Regions from separate parts of the Homo sapiens genome. Here region 1 is linked to region 2. The links come from fine-mapping of genetic effects on gene expression. A gene starts in region 2. The other region holds a variant in brackets. All regions are shown on one strand. Distances are between the middles of the regions. Region 1 overlaps BATF2 (basic leucine zipper ATF-like transcription factor 2). Region 2 holds the start of PPP2R5B (protein phosphatase 2 regulatory subunit B'beta).

What was found. PIP is the estimated chance that this variant, and not a neighbour inherited with it, causes the effect.
Region 1: its variant is fine-mapped to the expression of PPP2R5B in whole blood (TOPMed, PIP above 0.99).

The regions. Positions count from the first base shown.
Region 1 is chr11:64,974,319-64,989,954 of GRCh38, reverse strand. It overlaps BATF2 (basic leucine zipper ATF-like transcription factor 2), which reads left to right. Exons shown (of 3, transcript NM_138456.4): 3 at 143-2,010. The coding sequence ends at 826. Among named protein-coding and RNA genes, the nearest start is that of MAJIN, 10 kb to the right of the region's middle. RefSeq lists an enhancer at 1-291. The variant A/G (reference allele first, on the strand shown) is at 5,145.
Region 2 is chr11:64,918,542-64,931,840 of GRCh38, reverse strand. PPP2R5B (protein phosphatase 2 regulatory subunit B'beta) reads right to left here and starts at 7,152. Exons shown (of 14, transcript NM_006244.4): 1 at 6,813-7,152; 2 at 5,908-6,370; 3 at 4,933-5,129; 4 at 3,938-4,039; 5 at 3,683-3,775; 6 at 3,416-3,546; 7 at 1,460-1,519; 8 at 1,252-1,360; 9 at 352-405; 10 at 232-282; 11 at 1-92. The coding sequence starts at 6,106. RefSeq lists enhancers at 3,246-4,445, 7,394-7,563, 7,704-7,773, 7,394-8,191 and silencers at 6,854-6,963, 7,064-7,283.

The DNA.
Region 1 (15,636 bases), 57 kb before region 2:
GTGGCCAAGAGACCCCACTTGGCTATTCCAATGGTGGTGGCATCTTTCTCCTGAAGTTGAGGACCCTGGAAGGGGCTAAGGCTCATGCGGGGCCCCTGACACTGGCTGAGGTTCCCCTCCCCGCCCATCTGCTTCTCTGCAGCAGCACGAGTCTCTGGAAAAAGACAACCTCGCCCTGCGGAAGGAGATCCAGTCCCTGCAGGCCGAGCTGGCGTGGTGGAGCCGGACCCTGCACGTGCATGAGCGCCTGTGCCCCATGGATTGTGCCTCCTGCTCAGCTCCAGGGCTCCTGGGCTGCTGGGACCAGGCTGAGGGGCTCCTGGGCCCTGGCCCACAGGGACAACATGGCTGCCGGGAGCAGCTGGAGCTGTTCCAGACCCCGGGTTCCTGTTACCCAGCTCAGCCGCTCTCTCCAGGTCCACAGCCTCATGATTCTCCCAGCCTCCTCCAGTGCCCCCTGCCCTCACTGTCCCTTGGCCCCGCTGTGGTTGCTGAACCTCCTGTCCAGCTGTCCCCCAGCCCTCTCCTGTTTGCCTCGCACACTGGTTCCAGCCTGCAGGGGTCTTCCTCTAAGCTCAGTGCCCTCCAGCCCAGCCTCACGGCCCAAACTGCCCCTCCACAGCCCCTCGAGCTGGAGCATCCCACCAGAGGGAAGCTGGGGTCCTCTCCCGACAACCCTTCCTCTGCCCTGGGGCTTGCACGTCTGCAGAGCAGGGAGCACAAACCTGCTCTCTCAGCAGCCACTTGGCAAGGGCTGGTTGTGGATCCCAGCCCTCACCCTCTCCTGGCCTTTCCTCTGCTCTCCTCTGCTCAAGTCCACTTCTAACCTGGTCTTCGGAGCTGGGTTGGCCCCTTCTTTGGGCTCAGGAAGCAGCCTTAGCACACGGGCCTCTCCTCCCTCACTACTGGGTGCTGCCCTGCGTGGCTGACCAGCTGGCCCAGGATTTCACAGTCGAAAAGGAAGCCACCACTGATGCCTCCCACTGTGACAGGCCCTGTCACCACCAATATCTTATTTCAACCTCACAGTTGACCTGAGAAATCGAGATTATCACTCCACTTTTTCAGACAAGGAAACTGAGGCTCAGGGAAGCCAAGTGACAAGTCCAAGGTCACGAAGACTTTCTTGGAGCCCGAAACACCACCCTCTGCTCCTCCTTCTCCTGTCCTGGCCCAGGCATCCTAGGGGCTGAAATCCTGGAAACCGTGGGCTGGTGTGAGAAGGTTTGCATGCTCAGAGCAGAGAAGGGCTCTCCCCACTGCTTCGTGATTCCAGGGCCAGAGCCATGCAGTCCCAGAAACCCCAACCTAGCTGGGGCAGGTCCAGAGTCCAAGCCCTGGTGGGTAGAGGCCAAGCAGAAGCCCTGAAGTGGACTCTTGCTTCCCCTAGTAGTGTTTTCAGTGCCAAGAAGCTGAAACTGTGAGCTGGAGTTGGGGAGAGGTCTGGAAGAGGACCATCTGGGATTTCTACAGCCTGGGTACCCATAGCCACACCAAGGCTTCTGGGAGATTCTGCAGGGTCAGCTTTCCAGGCTGTTCCCAAATAGCTCCCTGCCTCCCCACTGCCCCTAAAGCCACAGCAGAAGAGCCATTCATCTCATAAACAAAAAGGAAGAGGAAAGAATGAGGAAGGACCCTGTGCAAGGTTATTTGCAGGCAGGGATGGGCTTGTACCTGACAGCACCCACCCCTGTGTGGCCCCCAGGCCCTCATCACCCTCAGACCCCTCCTAAGCAGTTCCCTCATTGCTCTTTGGACTAGGCTGACAGCAGGAAGAGCAGGGCCCATGACCGGGTGGAAGTTCAGTTTTGGTGTCTGCTTCAAGAGGGGGTTTTACACTCTGATTCCAGGACAAGCACTCTGAGGCGGGTGGGGGAGAGAAACCCTGGCTCTTCACCCAGGTTTCACACACATGTAAATGAAACACTATGTTAGTATCTAACACACTCCTGGATACAGAACACAAGTCTTGGCACATATGTGATGGAAATAAAGTGTTTTGCAATCTTTTCTGCTTTGCCTAGTTACTTAAACCTCTCTTTGTAACCTACAGAGTCTTTGAAAAAAGAGAGAATAACAGAGATGGGCAACCCCTCATGAACCAGCTAATTAATCTCCCTCCAATACTACAGATGAGGAAACTGAGGCTCAGAGATGAGACGGACTTGCGCAGGTGTATTAGTCAGTGTTCTCTAGAGAAATAGAACCAATAGAGTGTGTGTGTGTGTGTGTGTGTGTGTGTGTGAAGACAGAGAGATTTTTTTTTTAATGTTGTTTTTTTTTTGAGATGGAGTTTCACTCTTGTCACCCAGGCTGGAGTGCAATGGTGCAATCTCGGCTCACTGCAACCTTCGCCTCCCGGGCTCAAGTGATTCTCCTGCCTCAGCCTCCCAAGTAGTGGGGATTACAGGTGCCCACCACCACACCCAGCTAATTTTTTCCTTTTTTTGAGACAGAATCTCGCTCTGTCGCCCAGGCTGGAGTGCAGTGGTGCAATCTCGGCTCACTGCAAGCTCCGCCTCCCGGGTTCACGCCATTCTCCTGACTCAGTCTCCTGGACTACAGGCGCCTGCCACCATGCCCGGCTAATTTTTTTTTTTTTTTTTTTTTTGTATTTTTAGTAGAGACAGGGTTTCACCATGTTAGCCAGGATGGTCTCGATCTCCTGACATTGTGATCTGCCTGCCTCGGCCTCCCAAAGTGCTGGGATTACAGGCATGAGCCACCACACCCAGCCTCACGCCCAGCTAATTTTTGTATTTTTAGTAGAGATGGGGTTCCACCATGTTGGCCAGGCTGGTCTCGAACTCTTGACCTCAAGTGATCTGCCCGCCTTGTCCTCCCAAAGTGCTGGGATTACAGGCGTGAACCACCACGCCCTGCCAAGGGAGACTTATTTTAAGAAATTGGCTCATGTGATGATGGAGGTTGGCAAGTCCAAATTCTTCAGGGTGAATTGTCAGGCTGGAGCCCCAGGAAAGTGCTGCTGTTGCAGTTCAAGTCCAAAGGCCACCAGCTGCAGAACTTACTCTAGCTTGGAAAAGGTTAGTCTTTTTGTTCTATTCAGGCCTTCAGTCGATTAGATGAGGCCCACCTACATTATGGAGGGCAACCTGCTTTATTCAAAGCCCACCAACTTCAATGTTGATCTCGTCCAAAAACACATTCACAGAAACATTCAGAATAATGTTTGACCACATATCTGGGCACTGTGGCCCAGCCAAGAGGACACATACAAGTAACCATTGTGCCAGGTTCACATAGCAAAGGGAAGTCACAGGGCTGTGGATGGCAGCAGAGCCATGGTCACCAGCGATTCAGGGAAAGCAAACAGGTGGGAGGGAAGCGAAGGTGCTGTTGGTTAGAGGTGGGCTGGAGTCTGGGACAGGATTCAACATACTCTGGGCACGAGGACTCAGTGGAGGATGAGGACAGCATGGTCGTGCTGTATCTGTATACCCTAAAGTATAGTAGGCTCTGTGCTATTTTACTTGGATTAACTCAATGATGCCTCTAGTAACTCTGTGACGTATGCTTCTCAACCCCACTGTTCAGAAGAGGAAACTGTCTTTGAGCTAGAGCTGTAAGAAAGAGAGAGAAAGGGAAACTGAGGTCCAGAGGTAGTAAGTAATAAGTCCAAGGTCACATAGCTAGGAAACTATATAGACTTGGTTCAACAATCAGGAGCCCTTAGCTGCAGGCAACCCAGCCTTCAACCTTCCTGGATTCTCATTGCAGGCCCAGACTTCAGGGGCAGCACATGCTAATAGATATGACCCAAGAAGGTAAAACTCTACCCCACCCTCAAACAAATAGATGGGAGTGATTCAATTAATGCTGGTACACTCATGTGATGGACTACTGAAAAGCTGAATAAAGAATGCTTGGCCAGGCGCGGTGGCTCACGCCTATAATCCCAGCACTTTGGAAGGCCAAGGCAGGCGATCATGAGGTCAGGAGTTCAAGACCAGCCTGGCCAACATGGTGAAACCCTGTCTCTAATAAAAATACAAAAATTAGCTGGGCATTGTGGCGGGTGCCTATAATCCCAGGTACTCGGGAGGCTGAGGCAGGAGAATTGCTTGAACCCGGGAGGCAGAGGTTGCAGTGAGCCGAGATCACACCACTGCACTCCAGCCTGGGCGATGGAGCAACACTCCGTCTTGGGCGGAAAAACAAGTTACTTGGGTGGCTGAGGTGGGAGGATTGCTTGAGCCAGGGAGGTCGAGGCTGCAGTGAGACATGATCGAGCCACTGCACTCCAGTCTGGATGACAGAGTGAGATCCTGCCTCAAAAAAAAAAAAAAAATAGAGAATTCAAGGGAAGGGTCTCTCAGGAGGTGTCATTCAGGATGAGACCTGACAAGATGAGAATGACAAGAGAGAGTCAGCCATGCAAAGATCTAGGGAAAGAACATGCCACTCAGAGGCAATACCATGTGTAAAAACTCCGGGTCTGGAAAAAGCGCTAAACGTAGGCTGGGCACGGTGGCTCACACCTATAATCCCAGCACTTTGGGAGGCCGAGGCGGGCGGATCACAAGGTCAGGAGATTGAGACCATCCTGGCTAACACGGTGAAACCCTGTCTCTACTAAAAATACAAAAAATTAGCCGGGCGTGGTGGCAGGCGCCTGTAGTCCCAGCTACTCAGGAGGCTGAGGCAGGAGAATGGTGTGAACCCGGGAGGTGGAGCTTGCAGTGAGCCGAGATGGCGCCACTGCACTCCAGCCTGGGCAACAGAGCGAGACTCCGCCTCAAAAAAAAAAAGAAAAAGCACTAAACATGTTAGAGGAACAGAAAGGAGTAGGCCAGCTGGGCGCAGTGGTGCACACCTCTAATCCCGGCACTTTGGGAGGCCGAGGTGGCTTGAGCCCATGAGTTTGAGACCAGCCTGGGCAACAAAGCAAGACCTTGTCTCTACTAAAAATTCAAAGAATTAGCTGGGCGTGGTGGCATGCACCTGTAGTCCCAGCTATTCGAGAGGCTGAGATGGGAGAATTGCTTGAGCCCAGGAAGTCAAGGCTACAGTGAGCCATGATCATGCCCCTGCACACTGGGTGACAGAGCAAGACTTGTCTCAAAAAAAAAAAGAAGAAGAAGAAGAGAAAAGAAAGGAGGAGGAGAATCAGGGAAGAGAAAAGG[A/G]AAGATGAAGTCTGAGAAGAGGCCAGAAAAATTGTGTAAGCCATGAGAAGGATGTGAGATTCTTCCTGTGTGAGTGGGAGAATTTTTTTTTTTTTTTGAGATGGAGTCTCGCTCTGTTGCCCAGGCTGGAGTACAGTGGTGCGATCTCAGCTCACTGCAAGCTCTGCCTCCCGGGTTCACGCCATTCTCCTGCCTCAGCCTCCCAAGTAGCTGGGACTACAGGCGCCTGCCACCACACACAGCTAATTTTTTGTATTTTTAGTAGAGACAGGGTTTCACCGTGTTAGCCAGGATGGTCTCGATCTCCTGACCTCGTGATCTGCCCGCCTCAGCCTCCCAAAGTGCTGGGATTACAGGCGTGAGCCACCACACCCAGCCGTGAGTGGGAGAATTTTAAACAGAGATGTACACTGATTTTTTTTTTTTTGAGACGGAGTCTTGCTCTGTTGCCCAGGCTGGAGTGCAGTGCACGATATTGGCTCACTGCAATCTCTGCCTCCTGGGTTCAAGAGATTCTCCTGCCTCAGCCTCCTGAGTAGCTGGGATTACAGGTGCCTGCCACCGCGCACAGCTAATTTTTTATATTTTTGGTAGGGACAGGGTTTCACCATGTCGGCCAGGCTGGTCTCGAACTCCTGACCTCAATTGATCCAGCCACCTCAGCCTTCCAAAGTGCTGGGATTACGGGCGTGAGCCACCGTGCCCAGCCTCTGATTTTTAAATTCATTTAAAATATATTCAGCTCCTCTTTTCAAACACTATCCTAGGCATTTGGGATAAAGAAGAGAACAAAACAGACAAAAATGCTTATATTTAATAGGGAAGCTGGGTCAAGAGGGGTAAGACAAGAAAAGAGGAATTGAGAGGGTCAGGGTGGAGAAGGTACAATTTAAAATAGGGTGGTCGCCCAGGCGCGGTGGCTCATGCCTGTAATCCCAGCACTTTGGGAGGCTGAGGTGGGAGGATCACTTGAGGTCAAGAGTTCGAGACTAGCCTGGCCAACATGGCAAAACACCGTCTCTACTAAAAATACAAAAATTAGCCAGGTGTGGTGGCAGGAACCTGTGATCCCAGCTACTCAGGAGGCAGAGGCACAAGAATCACTTGAACCTGGGAGGTGGAGGTTGCAGTAAGCCGAGATCGCGCCAGTGCACTCCAGCCTGGGTGACAGAGCGAGACTCAGTCTCAATAAAATAAATAAAATAAAATAAAATAAAATAAAATAAAATAAAATAAAATAAAATAAAATATAAAATAAAATATAAAATAAAATATAAAATAAAATATAAAATAAAATAAAATAAAATAAAATAAAATAAAATAAAATAAAATAAAATGAGTGGTCAACGTCAGTTCAATAGGAAGAGAGTATTTGAAGCCAGGTGTAGTGGCTTCAAATCCAAGCACTTTGGGAGGCTGAGGTGGTCAGATCACTAGAGGCCAGGAGTTCAAGACCAGCCTGGCCAACATGGCAAAACTCAAACTCCTTCTCTACTAAGAATACACACACACAAAAAGAAAATTAGCAGCTGGGCACAGAGGCTCACGCCTGTAATCCCAGCACTTTGGGAGGCCAAGGTGGGCGGATCACCTGAGGTCAGGAGTTCCAGACCAGACTGGCCAACATGAAACCCCATCTCTACTAAAAATACAAAAAAAATTAGCTGGGCATGGTGGAACATGCCTGTAATCCCAGCTACTTGGGAGGCTGAAGCAGGAGAATTGCTTGAACCCAGGAGGCAGAGGTTGCGGTGAGCTGAGATCATGCTATTGCACTCCAGCCTGGGCAACAGAGCAAGACTCCATCTCAAAAACAAAAGAAAGAAAGAAAAGAAAAAAGAAAATTAGCAGGGCATGGTGGCGCATGCCTGTAGTCCCCACTACTTGGGAGGCTGAGGCACAAGCATCTCTGGAACCCAGAAGGTGGAGGTTGCAGTGAGCAGAGATCACGCCACTGCACTCCACCCTGGGTGACAGAGTGAGACTCCGTCTCAAAAAAAAAAAAAAAAGGCAGAGGACATTTGAGCAAGGTCTTGAAGAAGGCAGTGAATTAGCCAGGTGGAGATGAGTTCCAGGCAGAGGAAACAGCCAGTGCCGAGGCCTGGGGGCAGGTGTGAGCCTGAAACATTTGAGCCAGGGGGCTGGTGTGGCTGGAGGGAGGGAATGAAGGAGGGTCAGAGATGGTCAGTTGGTCAGGGATAAGGTCAGAGAGGTAACCAAGGGCCAGATCATACAGACCACTGCAAGGGCATTGCCTTTTTTCCATGAATCAGGGAGCCCGACATTTAAAAAAGATCAGATTGTTCAGGGGTGTGAATGGAAGCAGTGAGGTGGTAAGAAGAGGTCAGCCCATCTGACAAGGGATTAATAACCAGAATATATAAGGAGCCCAAACAACTCTCTAGGAAAAGATCTAATAATCTTTTTTGAAAAATTTTTCTTCCTATTTTCTTGAAAGAAACCTAATAATCTGATTTAAAAATGGGCAACAATTCTGGGCACAGTGGCTCACACCTGTAATCTCAGAACTTTGGGACGCTGATGCAGGCAGATCACTTGAAGTCAGGAATTTGAGACCAGTCTGGCCAACATGGCGAAATCCTGTCTCTACTAAAAATACAACAATTAGCCAGGTGTGGTGGCAGGTGCCTGTAATCCCAGCACTTTGAGAGGCATGTGTCTATAATCCCAGCTATTCGGGAGGCTGAGGCACGAGAATTGCATGAACCCAGGAGGTGGAGGTTGCAGTGAGCTCGGATCATGCCACTGCACTCCAGCCTGGGTGACAGAGCAAGACTTCATCTCAAAAAAAATAAAAATAAAAATAAATCAAAAAAAAAGGTGGGGGGAGGCAAAAGATTCCAGTAGACATTTCTCAAAAGAAGATAAACAAATGGCAAATAGACATATGAAAAGGTGCTAACATCATTAATCATCAGAGTAATGCTAATGAAAACTACAATGAGATATCATCGCACTCCAGTTCAAATGGCTTATACCCAAAAACAGTCAGTAACAAACGCTGGCGAGGATGTGGAAGAAAGGGAACCCTTGAACACTGTTGGTGGGAATGTAAATTAGTACAACCACTATGGAGAACAGTTTGGAGGTTCCCCAAAAAACTAAAAATAGAGCTACCATATGATCCAGCACTCCCACTGCTGGGTATAGATCCAAAAGAAAGGAAATGAGTATATCGAAGAAATATCTGACTCCCATGTTGCAGCACTGTTCACAATAGCCAAGATGCGGAACCAACCTGTGTCCATCAACAGAAGAATGGATAAGGAAAATGTGGTACATATACACAATGGAGTACTGTTCAGCTATAAAAAGAATGAGATTCTGTCGTTTGCAACATGGATGGAACTGAAGATCATTATGTTAGGTGAAATAAGTCAGGCACAGAAAGATAAAAATCACATGTTTTCACTTATTTGTGGGATCTAAAATTCAAAATAATTGAACTAATGGAGATAGAGAGTAGAAGGATGATTACCAAAGGCTAGGAAGAGGATTGGGGGTGGGTGGGGGGAGGTGGGGATGATTAACAGATACAAAAAAAAAGTAGAAAGAATGAATAAGACCTACTATTTGATGGCATATAATAGGGTGACTATAGTCAATAATCATGTAATTGTCACTTGGAAATAATTAAAAGAGTGTAATTGTATTGTTTGTAACACCAAGGATAAATGCTTAAGGGGTGGATACCTCATTCTCCATGATGTGATTATTGTGCCTTGCATGCTTGTATTCAAAACATCTCATGCATGCCTACTGTGTATTCACAAAACTTAAAAACTGACAGAAAAGAAGTGGTCGGATTCAGGGTGTGCTTTACAGATACAGCTGATGGGATATGCTCATGGACTGAGTGTGGTGAAAGGGAGGAAGGAAGGATGACTGAGATTTGGGACCTGAGCAATTGATGGTTGGTGGTGCCAAAAACCAAGAAAGGCTGGAAGAGGGGCAGTTTGGGGTTTGGTGGTGGGGATCAGGAGCCCTATTTTGGCCATGTTAAATTTGGGATACCTATTTGACATCCAACTGGTTTAAATAAGAGTCTGGAGTCTGGGAAATGTCAGGACTGGATAAATAAATTTGGAAGCCATCAGTAGGTTGGTGGACAATGAGAGATGGGCAAGATGACCTCTGAGGGCCTTTGCAGCCTGTGTTTTCTTGTGCACCCAGAGCTCTCAGCCTGATAGTCTTTCCCTTATCACTCCTTCATGCCCAGAATTTGCCCCCATCCTTCCTTTTTGTTTTTCTGAGATGGAGTCTCGCTGTCGCCCAGGCTGGAGTGCAGTGGCGCGATCTCGGCTCACTGCAGGCTCTGTCCCCCTGAGTTCACGCCATTCTCCTGCCTCAGCCTCCTGAGTAGCTGGGACTACAGGCGCCCGCCACCTCGCCCGGCTAATTTTTTCTATTTTTAGTAGAGACGGGGTTTCACCGTGTTAGCCAGGATGGTCTCGATTTCCTGACCTAGTGATCCACCCGCCTTGGCCTCCCAAAGTGCTGGGATTACAGGCGTGAACCACCGCGCCCGGCCCCATCCTTCCTTTTCAAATGCTCCTTTCTCCAGGAAGCCTCCTGTAATCTTCCAAGATAAAAGTGACCTGCAGGCCCAGCGCGTTGGCTCATACCTGTAATCCCAGCACTTTGAGGGGCCAAAGCAGGCGGATCATCTGAGGTTGGGAGTTCAAGACCAGCCTGACCAACATGGAGAAACCCCGTCTCTACTAAAAATACAAAATTAGCCGGGCATGGTGATGCATGCCTGTAATCCCAGCTACTCGGGAGGTTGAGGCAGGAGAATCGCTTGAACCCAGGAGGCAGAGGTTGTGGTGAGCCAAGACCATGCCATTGTACTCCAGCCTGGGCAACAAGAGCAAAAATCCGTCTCAAAAAAAAAAAAAAAAAAAGTGACCTGCTTTCCTCTCCATGCCCGTCCTGTGCTTTTCTGTCATCTTCCTTTTTGTGTGACTGTGTCTTGCTACCCTCTTCCCTCCCTCAATGATAGCAACCAGTGTGGCACATAATGATTATGATTATTATTATTACTGAGACAGGGAGGCCCAGGCTGGAGTGTAATGGCACAAACACAACTCACTGCAGCCTTGACCTCCCAGGCTCAAGTGATTCTCCCTTCTCGGCCTCCCAATGTACCAGATTCTCAGGCGTGAGTCACACCTGGCCGACACATAATGAATACTTTTATTTTTTAATTTTTTACTTTTTAAAATTTTTGTTAGAGATGGGGTCTTGCTATGTTGACCAGGCTGGTCTCGAGCTCCTGGCCTCAAACGATTCTCCCATCTCGGCCTCCCAAAGTTCTGTGGTTACAGCCATGAGCCACTGTGTCCGGCCAATGAGTAGTTTTAAAAAGCCTATGCTGGCCGGGTGCGGTGGCTCACGCCTGTAATCCCAGCACTTTGGGAGGCCGAGGTGGGCAGATCACGAGGTCAGGAGATCGAGACCATCCTGGCTAACACGGTGAAACCCCGTCTCTACTAAAAATACAAAAAAAATTAGCCGGGCGTGGTGGCAGGCGCCTGTAGTCCCAGCTACTCAGGAGGCTGAGGCAGGAGAATGGCGTGAACCCCAGGGGATGGAGCCTGCAGTGAGCCAAGATCGTGCCACTGCACTCCAGCCTGGGCGACAGCGAGACTCTGTTTCAAAAAAAAAAAAAAAAAAAAAAAAAGCCTATGCTTTCGGAGGCAGTGGAGCATAGCGGTTAGTGGTGAAACAGCTTAGGCTCCAGGGCCAGACAGGATTAGGTTCAAATCTCAGCTCTATTATTTCCTCATTCAACTTCAAGACTGAGCTTTCTCATCTGGAAAATGGAGATTTAAAAAGGTACCCACCTACAGTCCACCCAACATATATGTGTGTGTGTATATACACAAATATATGAATGTATAATGTAGATAGGTGATATGGTTTGGTTGTGTCCCCACCCAAATCTCAACTTGAATTGTATCTCCCAGAATTCTCGCGTGTTGTGGGAGGGACCCAGGGAAAGGTAATTCAATCATGGGGGTCTATCTTTCCCGTGCTATTCTCGTGACAGTGAGTAAGTCTCACGAGATCTGATGCGTTTATCAGGGGTTTCTTCTTTTGCGTCTTCCTCATTTTTCTCTTGCTGCTGTCATGTAAGAAGTGTCTTTTGCCTCCCGCCATGCTGAGGCCTCCCCAGCCATGTGGAACTGTAAGTCCAATTAAACCTCTTTTTCTTCCCAGTTTCAGGTATGTCTTTGTCAGCAGTGTGAAAACGAACTAATACGATAGGTATAATAGAAAAGTATATGTTCAGCCAGGCATGGTGGCTCACACTTGTAATCCCAACACTTTGGGAAGCCAGGTGAGAGGATGGCTTAAGCCCAAGAGTTCAAGACCAGCCTGGGCGACAGAGCGAGACTCTGTCTCAAAAAAGAAAAAGAAAATTCACTGAGCTACACATTTATGATCTGTGGTGGGTTTTTGTTTTGTTTTGTTTTGTTTTTTGAGACAGGGTCTGGCTCTGTCGCCCAGGCTGGAGCGTAGCGGTGGGATCTCGGCTCACTGCAAGCTCCGCCTCCCAGGTTCACGACATTCTCCTGCCTCAGCCTCCCGAGTAGCTGGGACTACTGGCGCCCGCCACCACGCCCGGCTAATTTTTTGTATTTTTAGTAGAGACGGGGTTTCACCGTGTTAGCCAGGACGGTCTCGATCTCCTGACCTCGTGATCCGCCCGCCTCGGCCTCCCAAAGTGCTGGGATTATAGGCGTGAGCCACCACGCCCAGCCTGACCTGTGGTTTTTTCTATTATGTCTGGTTACTTTGGAAAAAGGGGGTTGCGTGTAAGGAGTAGCTCACAGTCCCTGGCATATAGTAAGTGTTCAGTAAGTGTTAACTACTCCAAGTGAATGAAAAAACTCATGACTTGCCCCCAAGTGAAATCCATTAAAAATCAGAACCATGGACAGATCAGAGCCTGTGCTCAGGGAGGGTTGAAGGAAAAACCTCAGGTCTGATATGGGGGACCTGAGGCAAGAAGGAATCTGAGAACTTTCCTCTTGGATTAGTGGTTCAGTGCCTTCTGGGGGCATTCCCATCCTGCAGGAGAGAGACTATTCCTTGGGGACTGTAAGTGTCTTTGTGTTCCTGCAGAAATGCATGCCATTTTAAAAGGTCTACAGCCCCGTTTTTCAAAGCAGAGAATGCTGAAGTCTCTCCAGAGAGGCCAGTCCTGCCTCCACTACATCCGACAGCGTACCCAGGCCCTTGCAAGCTTTCCTCCTTGTGTCTTGGCTTCTGTTTATCTGGTGAGGGGGCGGACAGGGAAGAGACTCCAGTCAGGGTAAAAATAACCTAGGACAGATCTCTCAATCATGCCAAGACTCCTGAGTCTGACTCCCTGGGGTGGGCCTGGACCCAGTGTCTACAACAGTTTTCATGGACGATTCTTGGGAACACTTGAGCCTCTAACAGCTTGGTCTTTTGAGTTAGATTCAAACACAAAACATAGCCAAAGAGAGCTCTTCTGAAGGATCTCTGTGGTTGGGGAGGGGACTCCCGGGTTAGTGGTTCACCTCCTTGCTGGGGTCCTCTGCTTCTGTCCTGTGACAGCCACCAACCGCAGGAATCGGCTCGTGTTACTAAAACTGCAAAAAGGCCTTCAAGGTCTGGGCTGAGCCTGGAAGGATTTGGAGGCCTCTTTGAGCAAACCTATCCCACCCCATCACCTCTTCAATCTCCACAAGGCTCATACCTGGATGGTCAATGGGTTTCACAGCCTTACTGTGAGTCAGACACCCAACACACAGAGAGGGAGTGGTAAACTGAAGACTGAATTACACTACCCTAAGGGTGGGGGCAGATCCCCCTGTCCCTACCCCCAGGGTTGCCTCTCTGAGTCAAGTCATTTCAATTCCCCATGGCCCCGTCAGACCAGTCTCTGGCTGGTCAGATTTTCTGAGCTGAGGCCCGTTGCCTGGCAGGTAATTGACCTGGGAAGCCCAAAGGGAGGTGGTAGGGGTTGGGGAGCCCCAGGTGCTGCAGGAAATGGAGCTGTTGATTAAGTGGCTCCTTCCCTCAGCCTTGGAGGCTGGGAAGCTGCACAGGCCCAAGAAGCAGCAGCAGCTCTCTAAGGAACAAGACCTGGTTCTGACCCTCTTGGGGAGATCATGGGTCTGCAGAGCATTTCCCTAAGAGCTTCAGGGGCTGGCTGTTAATGGGGGCCCTATTCCCAGCACTCAATTCTTCCTCAGTAGGTGCTAGGCTTCTTCCTAGGACAGGATTTGTTTTGTTCTCTGGGGCTCTCAGACTGAACTGCTTAGGGGGAGGAAAGCCAGTTACAGAATGTGACAATGTGACCAGGGCCCCTCTGAGAAGCCTTTCTGGGAGTCCCTGGGAGAAAGGGACCAGGAGAGGGCCGGGCATGGTAGCTCACACCTGTAATCCCAGCACTTTGGGAGGCCGAGGCAGGCGGATCACCTGAGATCAGGAGTTCCAGACCAGCCTGGCCAACATGGTGAACACCCGTCTCTACTAAAAATACAAAAATTAGCCGGGTGTGGTGGTGCACACTTGTAATCCCAGCTACTTGGGAGGCTGAGGCAGGAGAACTGCTTGAACCCAGGAGGCAGAGGTTGCAGTGAGTCGAGATTGTACCACTGCTCTCCAGCCTGGGCAACAGCGAGACTCCATCTCAAATAAATAAATAAATAGCCCAGGCACAGTGGCTCACGCTTGTAATCCCAGCACTTTGGGAGGCCGAGGTGGGTGGATCACCAAAGGTCAGGAGTTAAAGACCAGCCTGGCCAACACGGCAAAACCCCATCTCTACTAAAAATACAAAAAAAATTAGATAGGCCTGGTGGTGGGTACCTGTAATCTCAGCTACTTGGGAGGCTGAGGCAGGAGAGTTGCTTGAACCCAGGAGGCAGAGGGTGCAGTGAGCCGAGATCGTGCCATTGCACTCCAGCCTGGGCGACACTGGAACGACACTCTGTCTCAAAAATAAATAAATTAATTAAAATAAATAAAGGGACCAGGAGAGGGTAAAGTAATCCTGCCTCCAAGTCAAAGGAGTGGGACAGTAGTCAAGACCAAGGACATCCCTTGAAGGGTCAGGTGGTCAGATGGTTGTGATAAAGCACAGGATTCATGGTCCCTTGAGAGTGTCCCCGCCAGAGCTTGATTCTCAGAAGCACTTGAACTATACCCACAGCCACATGTAAAGAATGTTTCATCCAAAGTTTATCTGAGTATGGTCCCTTCTACCAGCAGCAGCAGCACCTGGGAACTTACTTGTTCAAAAGGCAAATTCTCAGACCCCCAGATCTACTAAATCAGAAACTTGGGGGCTCGGTCCAGCAATCTACAAGCCCTCTAGGTAGTTCTGATGCATGCCCACGTTTGAGAACTAATACTGGTGTAATCTGACAGGACTCCAGAGCTGGATTGCCCAGTAAACTTCCTTCATTTGAAAATTCATCAACATTCATCAAACATGGGTTAGCACCTTCTATGTGCTAGATCCCTTGTCAAGCCACATAAGAAGCCCAAAGTGGCCGGGTGCGGTGCCTCACACCTGTAATCCCACTACTTCAGGAGGCCAAGGCGGGCAGATCACGAGGTCAGGAGATCGAGACCATCCTGGCTAACACGGTGAAACCCCGTCTCTACTAAAAATACAAAAAATTAGCCAGGTGTCGTGGTGGATGCCTGTAGTCCCAGCTACTCAGGAGGCTGAGGCAGGAGAATGGCGTGAACCCGGGAGGCAGAGCTTGCAGTGAGCCGTGATCGCACCGCTGCACTCCAGCCTGGGCGACAGAGGGAGACTCCGTCTCAAAAAAAAAAAAAAAAAAAAAAAGCCCAAAGTGGTGTAAATTGCAGTTCCCACCCTCCAAGCAGACTGGCCAGTCAATACAAGGAAAGGCAAAAAAAAAAAAGGGACCTGATCTTCTGGCTAGGGGGATTACAGAGGGCTTCTCAGAGGAGGTGGCATTTGGGCTGGGCCTTGAAGGATAAGTAAGAATAAGCAGGCAGAAAATGAAAATGAAAATGAAAATGAAGAAGCCAGGTTCCAGGAACTTTTTTTTTGCGGGGGGACTCGATGTGTCCCCCAGGCCAGACTGCAGTGGCATGATCACAGCTCACTGCAGCCTTGGACCCCTGGGCTCAAGCAATCCTCCCCCTCAGCCTCCTGAGTAACTGGGAATACAGGCATGCACTTCTATGTCTGGCTATTTTTTTTATTTTTTTGTGGAGATGGAGTCTTACTATGTTGCCCAGGCGAGTCTTGAACTCCTGGCCTCAAGAGATCCTCCTGTCTCCCAACGTGTTGGGATTACAGGTGTGAACCATCACGCCTGGCCTCAGGAACATATTTCTGAGACCAAAATCCAACTTTTAAGAGCATCTTATTGCTGTAGGGATAAATTCAAGTACCTCAAGTACCTCAGCACAAGCTTCTTCGTAGTCTAGCCCCTGTGTCTCCCCTCAA
Region 2 (13,299 bases):
GCCACCTGCTTAAAAAGGGGCTCCTGGATCTTCACAAACTGGGAGGGCTCGATGACATCAAGAATCTCTTCCATCTCCCCCAGAAACATCACCTGGGTGGGTTGGGGAGGGGAGTAGGGACAGAGGGGCAGCAGCTCACATCTCCCCCTACACATACACACACCTGACTGCCTTCTAGAGGCCGAGCCCTCCCAGCCTCCCTCTGGCGGGCATCAAAGCCCTTCTTCATACCTCCTTCTGGGTGCAGGTTTTTGGCCAGTATTTGAGCAGCCCCCGGATCACCTGTGGGAGATGAGACAGGAGTCACGCCTGCAGAGGTGAGAGGCTGCCTTAGCCCCCAGAGGTACTCACGTGCTCTGTCAGAGTGGCATCCTTCTCCAGGAACTGCACCACACAGTATGCCAGCTGCAGGGGGTGACAGGTGGAGGGAAGGAAGACAGGTCAGGAAGGCACCAGGCGCCAAGGACTTGCTGTCCAGGACAGAATGCCAAATACTGCTCACCCACGGCCTGTTACTTTCTTATTCACCAAGCATTTATCACCTGCCTAGGATGTACCAGGCATCACATTCAGTGTGCTGGGAATACAACTCTGATCTCGCGGGGAGTGGGGACAGTCAACAAACTCATCTTTATAAATTTTGCAAAAGGTTCCATAATATGGCTAGTGTGGTGGCTCACGCCTGTAATCCAAGCACTTTGGGAGGCCGAGGCAGCAGAATCACTTGAGCCTGGGAGTTTGAGACCAGCCTAGGTAACATAGCAAGACACTGTCTCTACAAAAAAAAAATTTTTTTTAATTAGCCAGGCATGTGGCACATACATCTGTGGTCCCAGCTACTCGGGAGGCTGAGAAGGGAGGACTGCTTGAGCCCAGCAGGTAGAGGCTTCAGTGAGCCATGTTCATACCACTGCTCTCCAGCTGAGGCAACAGAGTACGGTTTTGTCTCAAAAAAAAAAATTGTGTATCAAAATCTCCCATAATAGATTTGTGTATCCAAATATTTGGGAATATAGATGGAGAAGAATGTAATTCTGCCAAGGGAGGGTAGAGAAGAAAAGCCTGGCTTCACAGAGCTGATATCTGAGGTTAGCCTTAAAGCGCCAGTGGGAATTTTCTAAGGTAGATGGAACAGAATTATAAAGACAAAGAAGGTGAGATAGGATCCCTGGAGGATCTGACCTCCAGGACCCACTGGCTGCCCTGACTGTCTGGAGCTCCTGCTGCAGCAGGGACAGGCCTGGGCCTCACCTGGGCATGGAAGACAGACAGCGACTTGACAGAGTGCAGGGGGATCAGGACGCGAACCAGGAACTGCTTGTGCTCCGTCTTCAGGGGCAGCGCAAAGCCATTGATGATGCTGAGGAGGAGGCAGAAGAGAGGAAGAGGGCTCAGGTGACCTGGCCCCAGTCCCTCCTTCCAGAATCCTGAGCTCCAGCTGAGGCCCAGGGAGAATCACCTTCCTAGGATCTCCAGCAGCTCAGCCACACCATTGAAGTGCTCGAATTCATAGATGAACCTGCAAGAGAAGAACGCAGGTGGGCTCAAAGCAAGCAGGGTAGGCCCAGTGCCCCCTTAGGCATCCTGCCTGCCCACCCTCACCTGCACGGCACGCTCATCCAACTCTCCCCCAACCCAGAGGCTGCGCTCCCTTCCCAACATCCCAAACCAGGCCCCATTGAGATCCCCGCCCCCCCACACTGAAATGCCCTTCTCAGCCCAGCCACCTCTGCCACTGAGTCCCAAGCTCAAGGCTCTCTTGCCAGTCAACCAAGAGAATGACAAACACTTAGCACATCTACTCCGTACCATGTAAGTCTCAGAATTATCCAGGGAGATGGGGCTTAAGAAATCCATCACATGGATGAAGAAATCAAGACTCAGCGGTTAAATAAAACAACCCCAATGTTAATAGGCAGGGAATCTAATGAACTCCAAGGTGCAGGAGGACAGGGATCATGGCTCACCCATTTTGTAGCTAATAACAACTAATGTTTCAGAGTCCCGGCCTCAGTCCAGGAGCTATGCTGAGTGCTTTGCAGGCAAGGCCCCATGTCACCTCGATAATGGTCCCTGAGTTAGTACAAGCAGCATCCCCATTTTTATCTTATCTTTGAGATGGAATCTCGCTCTGTCGCCCAGGCAGGAGTGCAGTGGCGCAATCTTGGCTCACTGCAACCTCCACCTCCCAGGCTCAAGCGATTCTCCTGCCTCAGCCTCCTGAGTAGCTGGGATTGCAGGTGTTTACCACCACACTCAGCTAATTTTTGTATTTTTAGTAGAGACGGAGTTTCACCACGTTGGCCAGGCTGATCTTGAACTCCTGATCTCAAGTGATCTGCCCACCTCCAACTCCCAAAGTGCTGGGATTACAGGCATGAGCCACTGCACCCAGCCAGCATTCCCATTTTAAAGACGAGCAAACTAGGAGAGAGCTTAAGTAATTTGCCAAAGTTCACCCAAACGTTGGAACCAAACTCAAATGTAGGCCATACAGCTTCAGAGCCATGGTCTCAACTACAAGGCCACGTGAGCCTTGATGCCCAGTGGGTGCTGGTGCTCAGTGCATGTTTGCAGAAAGAATCTCTCTCTGGGTCCTTATGGCCTGGCATGATAAGGGTCAAATGATTTAGCTCCTAGGCCCCTGGACTGACCCAGTCCCTGCAAACCATTTCATCTCTCTTGGCCTCTACTTTCTCATCTGTAAAATGGAAATAAATACCCATTCTCTGTCAACTTCACAGGCTTTGTATAATCAATATGTAATACGTTACTGAGAAAGGGCTTGGAAAACAGAAGTTCTACAAGGGCCCCTGCAGCCCAGGAGCCTTTGCTGCAGTCTTCTTTTTTTTTGTTTTCTTTTCTTTTTTTTTTTGAGACACAGTCTCCCCGTTGCCCAGGCTGGAGTGCAGTGGCATGATCTCGGCTCACTGTAAACTCCACCTCCTGGGTTCATCCGTCTCGCTCTGTCGCCCAGGCCGGACTGCGGACTGCAGTGGCGCAGTCTCGGCTCACTGCAAGCTCCGCTTCCCGGGTTCACGCCATTCTCCTGCCTCAGCCTCCCGAGTAGCTGGGACTACAGGCGCCCGCCACCGCGCCCGGCTAATTTTTTGTATTTTTAGTAGAGACGGGGTTTCACCTGGGTTCAAGTAATTCTTGTCTCAGCGTCCCAAGTAGCTGGAATTACAGGTGCCCACCACCATGCCTGGCTAATGTTTGTATTTTTATTAGAGACGGGGTTTCACCATGTTGGCCAGGTTGGTCTCAAACTCCTCACCTTAGGTGATCCACCCACCTCGGCCTCCCAAAGTGCTGGGATTACAGGTGTGAGCCACCGCACATGGCCTTTGCCGCAGTCTTCTAACAGCCCTCTCACCCTCCCCAGGTCTCTGCTGGGCAGGCAGCAGCCACTCACCGGAGGAAGATGTGGTTGCACTGTTTGCGGATGTAGGCCCGGAGACCCAGGAACTTGCCATAGACCCGGTGCAGGATGGTCTTGAGGTACTCACGCTCCCGGGGATCCTCACTATCAAATAGCTCCAGGAGCTGTGGGAACCAGAGTCAGGGTCAGGGTCAGGGTCAGGGGAAAGGTCCACCCCAGGTTGCTTCCATCCTATCCCTGGCCCCTCAGAGAGCCTGCCCCTGCCTTGTGGTACCACCCAGCCTGGGCTCCCCACTTCACCATCAGGACAAACTTTTGATCCACATATCTCTTGGCCACGGAGGGCTGGAAGTCTGGGCTCTCCAAGAAACGCAGGAAAAACTCATATACCAGCTGGGGGAGGGGGACAGACAAAAAGGTGAGTTCAGTAACAGCCTCACCCACTCATTCCACCCTATGGCCCTCATCCAACTGTCTAGGGGCTAAGGAGGCCCTCTCCCCATGCCTTGGATCTCTTCTGAAACTTGGATCTCTGTCTTCCCCAACCCTTCAGACCTGCAGGTGTGGCCACGAAGGCTCAAGATTGGGCTCATCCTCTTCAGGGTCAAATTCAGGGTTCTCACTGGGCGGCAGAGTCCGGAAGATATTCACTGAGATCTGAGTGGCAGAGTTGGGGTTCATTAAGGAAAAGCCCTTGAAGACAGAAGCCAGGGAGTCTCTCATTCAAAGCTTTTTTTTTTTTTTTCTTTCCCAAGACAGGGTCTCGCTCTGTTGCCCAAGCTGGAGCGCAGTGGTACAATCTCGACTCACTGCAACCTCAACCTCCCAGGCAGGCTCAAGCGATCCTCCCACCTCAGCCTTCTGAGTAGCTGGACTACAGTAGCACACCACTATGCCCGGCAAATTTTTAAATTTTTGTAGTGATGCGGTCTCACTGTCAGGCTGGTCTTGAACCCCTTGCCTCAAGTGATCCTCTCGCCTTGGCCCAAAGTGCTGGGATTACAGATGAGAGCTGCTGCTCCCGGCCCTCATTCAAAGTTCTAATGGGTTGATTTCAGCATCTGCCCCAGCAAGCAGTTCATTCCTTGGGCAATCATCACCTGAACGCCTAGTTCGTGCAAGCCCTGGGCCAGGGGCTGGGAACCCAGGGGTGAATGGGACACATCCCTGCCTTCTAGGCAGGTGCAATCCAGTGGGGAGAACAAGGCTAGAAGCTGTGAGGTCTACGGGCAGGAAAAGGGAGATTTCCAGCTTGGTTATTGACAGCGGCTTCTTGGCAGAGGCGGCACCTGAGCCAGGCCATGGATGGTATGGGGTGTGGGGCAGGGCACTCCAGGTCTCAGGCAAGCATAAGCAAAGGTGTGGACGTGGGGCAGGCCCGGAGGCATTCAGTGGGTGTTGGGCAGCAGCAGGTCGGGGGGAAGGAAGACGTGGACTGAGGCCAAGCCGATGAGTACAGGGTTATTCTCCACGCAGGGGTCCTGCGGACAGGAAACGGGGCTCACACGCCCTCTCGGCCGGCCCTCGGAGCCTGGGTGGCAGGTGCTCACCATGCGGATGATGTCTGGGTAGACGGGCTCGATGAGGACACCCCGGGTGCTCCCCACACACTCCACCAGCTCGTTGAGGGCTGCCCGCTTCACCTCCTTCCCCTTGAGGTCGGCCACACAGTCCAAGAAGTCAAACATCACCCCACACTGGGCCAGCTTCCGGCTCAGCAGCTCGTGCAGCTCGGAAGCCGGCACATCTGGGGAGGAGAGGGCATCCTGGGCCTGGGCCCCAGCTCCCCCAGCTGCCCCAGCTGTGGGTGGGGCAGACCCTCCTAATCTCCACGGCTGCCTCTGCTGCCCCCAGGCCCCATGCTCTTGTGCCATCTCCTGCTCCTTGCAGACAGCAAACAACTACTGTCCCTTCCTCCATTCCTGGGGGTTGAGGGTTGCTTTTCTTCCTCCTAATCCAGGCTCAGAGAGTATGATGGCCTGAGTTTTAAAGCAAGATCACAAATCCTGGATGCAGCAGCTTTCCACAGGTGCCCCAAACAGCTGCTGCCTCCCTCTCAGGTGGCACCCTGTTCTAAGGGCCAGAAATGGGGAGGGGTTCAGGGCCAAGGATCTCTACGGTGTCCTCAGGCTTGGCCAGTCTGGCCCTATGGCCCAAGGCTGGGGAAGGGACCTATGTGGTGATCCCAGGGAACCCTGCCAAGCGCCTGCTCCAGGGATCTGGCAGCTGGCTGGGCTGATAGTGGCCCCCTGGAACCCAGGCTATGGGCCCCACCCTTGGCCTTGGTCTGCCCCTAGGGTGGCACCACCTTCGGATGTCCCACCTCTAAGGATGACAGGCCAGTCAGGCCATGTGTCAGCAGAGAGGGCTGGAGGGCTGGGGTCAGTTCTGATGGCGGAGAACCTAGCCTGGAGGGGTATCCAAACTCTCTCTCTTGGCAGCTGCCCGCTGCCTCCCACCCCTCCCCATGGCCCTGCTGGTCCCCTCGGGGGTTCGGTTCCCCCAGTGGCCAGCAGCCAGCTCACCTTTGAGCAGGGGCAGCGGTGTGAGCTCTTGCTGGTTGCTCTGATAGCGGAACTGAGAGGAGCTGTGGGAGCGGCGGGGCCGGGCTCTGCGGAGGGAACGGCGGGAGAAGCCGTCCACCTTGTCGGGTGGGGGCACAGGCGACAGCCCGGGGGAGGAGGGGCTAGTGGGGGTGCTTGCAGGGGGCAGCTTCGTCTCCATGGCGGTCAGGCGGCAGGGCAAGCTTTCAGAGCCCCGGGGGTTCTCTCTGGGCCTGGGAGGTGCTGGGTGAGACTGGACAGACTAACTTGGTCCCATCCTGTCCGGCCTTTGGGGGGGGGGCACAACCACAGTCCTGGGCCCCCCCCCAGGGCCTCCTGCAACTGCCCAGTCCTGGGGGGCAGACAGGGTAGAAAGGAGGATGGCTCAGGCCTCAGATCCTTCCTGGGGGTCCCGAAGAGTCCAGTTAGGGTTCCCACCCTGGCTCTTTTGAAAACGAAGTCAGGCAGAAAGATCAGCAAGAAAGAGACAGAGAAAGCCCATCAGTTCCTCAGGAGAGCCGGGAGGCTGCGTGGAGTGCCCAGGTCTTTTCCCTCCTATCCTTGCCCAGACCCTAAAATAGGGGTGCAGCCCCCTCCCATCCTGGACATGTCCCTCCCTTCTCTCAGACAGAAAGCCTCCAAAACAACCCCTCCCAGAATAGGGCCTATCCCCCAAGCCAGCCCCGACTCAGAATGGAGCCCCGATCGTCATCCCTGCCCCTTTCAGAATGGAACGCATCGCTGCTCCACTAATCCCGGCCACTTGGGACAACCCCAAGACTGGAGGTGCTGTCCCGATGCCACCCCGCTCCTAGAACCTGGCACCCTCCCCCACCTCAGCTCCTCCTTCCTGGCCCCCCAAACCTCATGGGGTGGGGGACACTCACTTCTCGAAAACCTAGACTTCGGTCGCCAACCCCCGGGGGCTGCCCGTAGGGAGGGCGACGGCCGTTCAGGGCCCCTTCGCAGCGGTTCCGCTCGGGGCGCTGGGGCTGGGCGGCGGCGCTCCTGGGTTCTCTCCCGGGCTCCGGGGGGGCGGCTAGAGCATGCCCCCAACTCAGCCCCGGGCCGGGACTGGGCGCTCGGCGGGCTCTGCACCGGCCGTCGCAGCGCGCGGATCTCCGCTGAAGTCCTGGGACTCCGACCCAACGCGGTGCAGCGCAACGGGAGCCCCGGCTCGGCTCCGTGCGCACCGGCACCCGCCGCCCAGCTGCTCAGGATGACATCAAGTCACCTCCCCCCACCCGGCCCGCACCTCCCCGCGGGCTGAAAGGGGGGGCTGCGTCAGGAAGGCCCGGGGCCGCTGGGAGATGTAGTCCCCGCGCCGTTTAAAGTGAGCTGCCAGACCAAAGGGGACACCCCTGAGGGCAGACTCGGGGGTGAAGGCCGAAGCTTTTGAAGCCAGAGAGCAGAGTGGGATGGGCTCTAGCCGGGGGCGGGAAGCCTGGATTCTAGAAGGGAGGCTGCATAGGGAAAGAGGAGGGCTTAGGAGTTTGCACCAGGAAAGTAGGGTGATGCCAGGACACTGACAGGAAGGAGTCGCAGCAAGCTACGCTAGGCCCACAGATTTGGCCTGGGCCTTCTATGCCCTAGGCCATCCCCCCAGGAACCTCACCCTTACCCCAGAACCACCAGACACTTCAGAAACCCCTTGGAAACCAGCACTGGACTAGTTAAAAGTCTGCGATGAGTCAGTGCTTGCTGGGAGGGGTGTGGTGCACCCAAGCCTGCTGGGAGATGCAGTCCATCCTCAGGCCTGCAGTCCCCCTCCCGTCCCTTGCTGTCTATGGTGACATCATGGTCTCCAGTTTAAAGGGCCAGTCTTGGAGTGGCAAAGCCCGAGAGGAGGAGGTTTTCTCCTTGAGCTGCCACCTCATCCCAGGCAGCCTGGCCTTCCCGGATGGACCTTTCAGCCCCCCTGGACCCTAAGATGTGCTGGGTGGGTCAGTGTCTCTTGCTCAAAATCCTGCTGCTGGCATGCAAGGCACAGGTGGGAGTCCAGGAGTTTGGCATGCTAACCAAAAGTTCCCAGCCTGCAGTCCTGGGCCCCCGTCCTAGGATCCTGGACCCCAACACTCTTTATAGCCCTGAACTCCATCCCGCTACACTGCTGTGAAATCTCCACCCTGAAATGTTGCCTGGATGAGCAGCTGGTCCATGGTGAGCAGTAGGAAAGGGTGATGAGACCAGATAATGAGGTCGGGGAGGGGACTAGGGGCCTTTTCAGAGTCTGCCCCATCTTGCTTTGGGTCTTGGTGACCACTCAGTGCTCCAGCGGAACCACCCAGCCATCCTCCCGGTTGCAGAGGAAGCCTGGGTGCGCAAGAGGTGTCCGCCTACCAAAGCAACAGAAGGCAGAGGCCTGCACCGAGGGCCGCAGTTCACCAGGCTGGGGTCCAGGACTCCGGCACTGGAGACCCAGCAAGTGCTCTGCTTGCTCAGGAACCTCCGGCAGGCCTTGCCCATCCGGCCCTTGGTGTCCCTGTCTGTCCAATGGGAATCCATGATCTCCCTCCTTGCCCACCTCCCAGGCTCTTCTGCATCCCTGAACAAGCTGAGGGAGGGCAGGCCCACAGAGCCTCTGCAGCCAGGCAAGGACCCCAAGGCCTAGAGAGGAGAAGCGCCTTGCCCAGTGTCACACAGCGTGTCATCAAAAGTTGGGGCCAGGGGCCAGGCTTCCACCTCCCAGCTGGCTACAGCCCATCTCCACAAGCCCCCTGGGTACCAGTGCCCTGGTCTCAAGGCTAGACTGACCACAGAGGACTGGTGTTTTATATAAAGGAAGTGCTAAGGCCAGGTGTGATGGCTCATACCTGTAATCTCAATACTTTGGGAGGCTGAGGTGGGAAGATCACATAAGCCCAGGAGTTAGAGGCTGCAGTAAGCTGTGATTGTGCTGTCGCATTCCAGCCTGGGTGACAGAGACCCTGTCTCAAAAACAAAACAAAAAACAGAGATGTTCCATTTGAGAAATGGGGCACTGAAGAGTAGAGGAGAGGGATAAGACTCTTGGAAGAAAAAAAAAACTTTTTTTTTTTTTTGAGATGGAGTCTCGCTCTGTTGCCCAGGCTGGAGTGCAGTGGCACAAACTCGGCTCACTGCAAGCTCCGCCTCCTGGGTTCACACCATTCTCCTGCCTCAGCCTCCCGAATAGCTGGGACTTCAGGCGCCCACCACCAAGCCCAGCTAGTTTTTTTGTATTTTTAGTAGAGACGGGGTTTCACCGTGTTAGCCAGGATGGTCTCGATCTCCTGACCTCGTGATCCGCCCACCTCGGCCTCCCAAAGTGCTGGGATTACAGGCGTGAGCCACTGTGCCCGGCTGAAAAAAAAGACTTCTGAAGTGGTGGCATTTGAACTGGGTCTCAAAATAGGCACAGTGTCACTTGGAGGATGCAAGATTGAACATTTTTTGTTTGTTTGTTTTTTGAGACAGAGTCTCACTCTGTCACCCAGGCTTGAGTGCAGTGGCACCATCTCAGCTCACTGCTGCAACCTCCACCTCCCAGGCCCAAGCAATCCTCCTGCCTCAGCCTCCCAAGTAGCTGGAACCACAGATGCACGCCATCATGCCAGGCTAATTTTTGTTTTTTTTGGTAGAGACAGGGTTTCGCCATGTTGCGCAGGCTGGTCTCAAACTCCTGAGCTCAAGCGATCCATTCGCCTCAGCCTCCTAAATGCTGGGATTACAGGAGTGAGCCATTGCACCCGGCTTTATTTTATTTTTTTATTTTTTTTTTGCAGTGGCGCGATCCTGGCTCACTGCAACCTCTGCCTCCTGGGCTCAAGCAATCCTCCCACCTCAGCCTCAGTCCCGAGTAACTGGGACCTCAGGCGCATGCCACCACTCCTGGCTAATTTTTTGTATTCTTTGTAGAGACAGGGTTTTGCTATGTTGCCCAGACTGGTCTCTAACTCAAGTGATCCTCTCGCCTTGGCCTCCCAAAGTGCTGGGACTACAGGTGTGAGCCACCATGTGTGGCTTTTACCACAATTTAAACGAAATGCATCACGTTGTGTTATATGCAACGAAAGATGTATGTTCAAAACAAAAAAAAGTCACCAATTTCAGTTGTACAATCCAACAGTATTGTATTTATAGATGAAGTTCCATGTATTTATAGATGAAGTTTGCTTTTTCAGGTGTGTTCCAGATCCCCCTGTTCTCCTGGCTGCCCCTGAGCTACCTGGAGGAGCTCCTCTGGCCTGGACACCCAGTTCCCTGCCAGCTGCCTGGGATCTCCTCCCTCCAGCTCCACCCATCCTTGAGGGATGGCCTCTCTTCCTCCATGAAAGCCCTTCCCTCTGATAAAACCCAAGCTCTCCACCCAGGACAGAGTCAAAAGCCGCAGCCCCCGGGCCACCTCTGTGATCCCTTTCTCACCCCAGAGGGTGGGCCATCCCTGGGGGGAGGGAGATACTCCTTCAGGGCCCCTGAGGTCTGAAGCACACAGTTTGCCTGATGAGTTTTCACCTAATCTAAGGTGGGAAGGATGCCCCCCGGCCTGGGCAAAGCCTGGCCCTCCCCATTTTCTCTCTATGGGGAGGAATCCTGACCCCAAACTTCCCCTGACCTCTTGACTGGAATCCAGTTGTCCAGTAGAAGAAGCCCCTAAATGCAGTGCCCAGGGCCAGTGTATTTGTTAGAACTGCTGGACCTAGGCCAGGTGCAGGGGCTCATGCCTGTAATCTCAGCACTTTGGGAGGCAGAGGCAGGTGGATTGCTTGAGCCCAAGAGTTCAAGACCAGCCTGGGCCACATAGTGAAACTCCATCTCTACAAAAAATAGAAAAATTAGCTGGGCATGGTGGCACGAGCCTATAGTCCCAGCTACTCGGGGAGGCTGAGGTGGGAGGATTGCTTGAGCCCGGGAGGCAGAGGTTGCAGTGAACTGTGATCATGCCCCTGTACTCCAGCCTGAGCAAGAATGAGGTACTGGCTCAAAAAAAAAATTACATATATATATATATATAGAACTGCTGGACCGAAGGCTGGGCGCAGTGGCTCACACCTGTAATCCCAGCACTTTGGGAGGCCGAGGCGGGCAGATCATGAGGTCAAAACTTCGAGACCAACCTGACCAACACGGTGAAACCCCATCTCTACTAAAAACAGAAAAATTAGCCAGGCGTGGTGGTGCACGCCTGTAATTCCAGCTACTCAGGAAGCTGAGGCAGGAGAATCACTTGAACCCAGGAGGCAGAAGTTGCAGCAAGCTGAGATCGCGCCACTGCACTCCAGGCTGGGAGACAGAGCGAGACTCCGTCTCAAAAAAAAAAAAAATAACTGCTGGACCTAAAGTGGGGCTTGGGACTTCGTTGCAGAATGTCCCATGGGGTTCCCAACACCCCATTTCCTCCCAAGAGAATATCGTCCCCTTTACTGTGCGAGGATTTTTTGCTCACTCCTTTAGCTCCTACTCCGAGGCTAGGTTGGAGAATGACTGTCTCTGGAGTTGGTTTTCTACAGAGCTTGTCTGGGGAAGTATCTTTGTGTCCTCTCAGTCCTGTCTAATCTTCTGCTGTGGTACACACATGGCACTGGGAACTGGGGCTCAGGAATGGACCTGCAGGCACCAACCCCTAAGAGACGGATGTGCCCACCAGTTCAGTTACAACAGACAGATGTGAGTGCAGCCTGACCCTGGGGTCTCCCTCACTGGAGGAGAGCAAACTCCCAGAGTGGCTCCAGGGGCCTAGAAAGGATAACTTTTCTTGGACCAAGAGAATATCCCCTTCTATCCCCACCACCTTTGGAAGGAGGAGAAGTGGTGTTTTTTCTTTTTTCTTTCCTTTTTTTGTTTTTGAGGTGGAGTCTTCTCTGTCACCCAGGCTGGAGTGCAGTGGTGCAATCTCAGCTCACGGCAACCTCTGCCCCCCGGGATCAAGTGACTCTGGCCACCTCAGCCTCCCAAAAATGCTGGGATTACACGTGTAAGCCACTGTTCCAAGCCTCTTTTTTCTTTTTATGATTTCTGAATCTTAATGCTTTTTCATTCATTCGCTCCACAGCATTTAGGCACGTAGCCTTGGTCTCCTCTCCCTTAAGAATGGGGATATTAATAGAACCTCCCTCATGAGCATATGGTGAACAGCAGAGCAGATGAGATCGTGCACGTAAAGTAACAAGCCCAAGGCCTAGGACATCACACAGGCTTAATTCATGGTGGCAATTATATTTACTATTAATTTTTTTTTTAGACAAGATCTCCGTCTGTCACCGAGGCCGGAGTGCAGTGGTGCATTCATAGCTTCACTGCAACTTCAAACTCCTGGGCTCAAATGACCAAAGGCACACACCACCACGCCCGGCTAATTTTTTGAAACATTTTTTTTTTTTTGTAGACACAGGGATTCAGCTATGTTGCCCAGGCTGGTCTCAAACTCCTGGGCTCAAGCGATCCTTCTGCCTCAGCCTCCCAAAGTGCTGGGATTACAGGAGTGAGCAACCCAACCCGGTATATTATTATTAATGTAATAATCAGTTGGTGAGCACAGTACTGCCCCCAGCCTGCCATGGAAGAAGGCAGAGCTCTAGATTCCTTCCACAAGCAGTTTCTTCTTTTTTTTTTTTTGAGACAGAATCTCGCTCTGTCAGCCAGGCTGGAGTGCAGTGGCACAAACTTGGCTCACCACAAGCTCCGCCTCCCAGGTTCACACCATTCTCCTGCCTCAGCCTCCCGAGTAGCTGGGACTACAGGCGCCCGCCATCACACTCTGCTAATTTTTTAAATATTTTTTAGTAGAGATGGGGTTTCACTGTGTTAGCCAGGGTGGTCTCGATTTCCTGACCTCATGATCCACCCGCCTTGGCCTCCCAAAGTGCTGGGATTACAGGCATGAGCCACCGTGCCTGGCCCATAAGCACTTTCTGAATGGCTGTCCTATCAGCCTGCCTCCCTGAATGGAGCCTGCTCCTTCCAGGTAATGAACTATCTCCACTTACTAACCCAACCCCAGTTACATAGGATAAAACTGAGGGTCACAAGAGGAGAAGAAACCACCCATGGGTGGGACTGGAATACAGGTCCCTGCCCGGTGGGCCAGGGCGGTTGCCCTTGCTTCAGGCTGAGTTTTGGCATTAGAATGTAAGAGTCCAGCTCCCAAGTAAGATTAAAATAGAAACACAGGCTAGGTGGGGTAGCTCACACCTGTAATCCCAGCTACTCAGGAATTCCTTGAACCCAGGAGCCAGAGGTTGCGTGAGAGGAGACTGCACCACTGCACTCCAGCCTGGGCAACAGAGCAAGACTCTGTCTCAAAAAAAATAAATAAAATAGAAACATAGGCCGGGCACGGTGGCTCGTGCCTGTAATCCCAACACTTTGGGAGGCCAAGGCAGGCTGATCACCTAAGGTCAGGAGTTCGAGACCAGC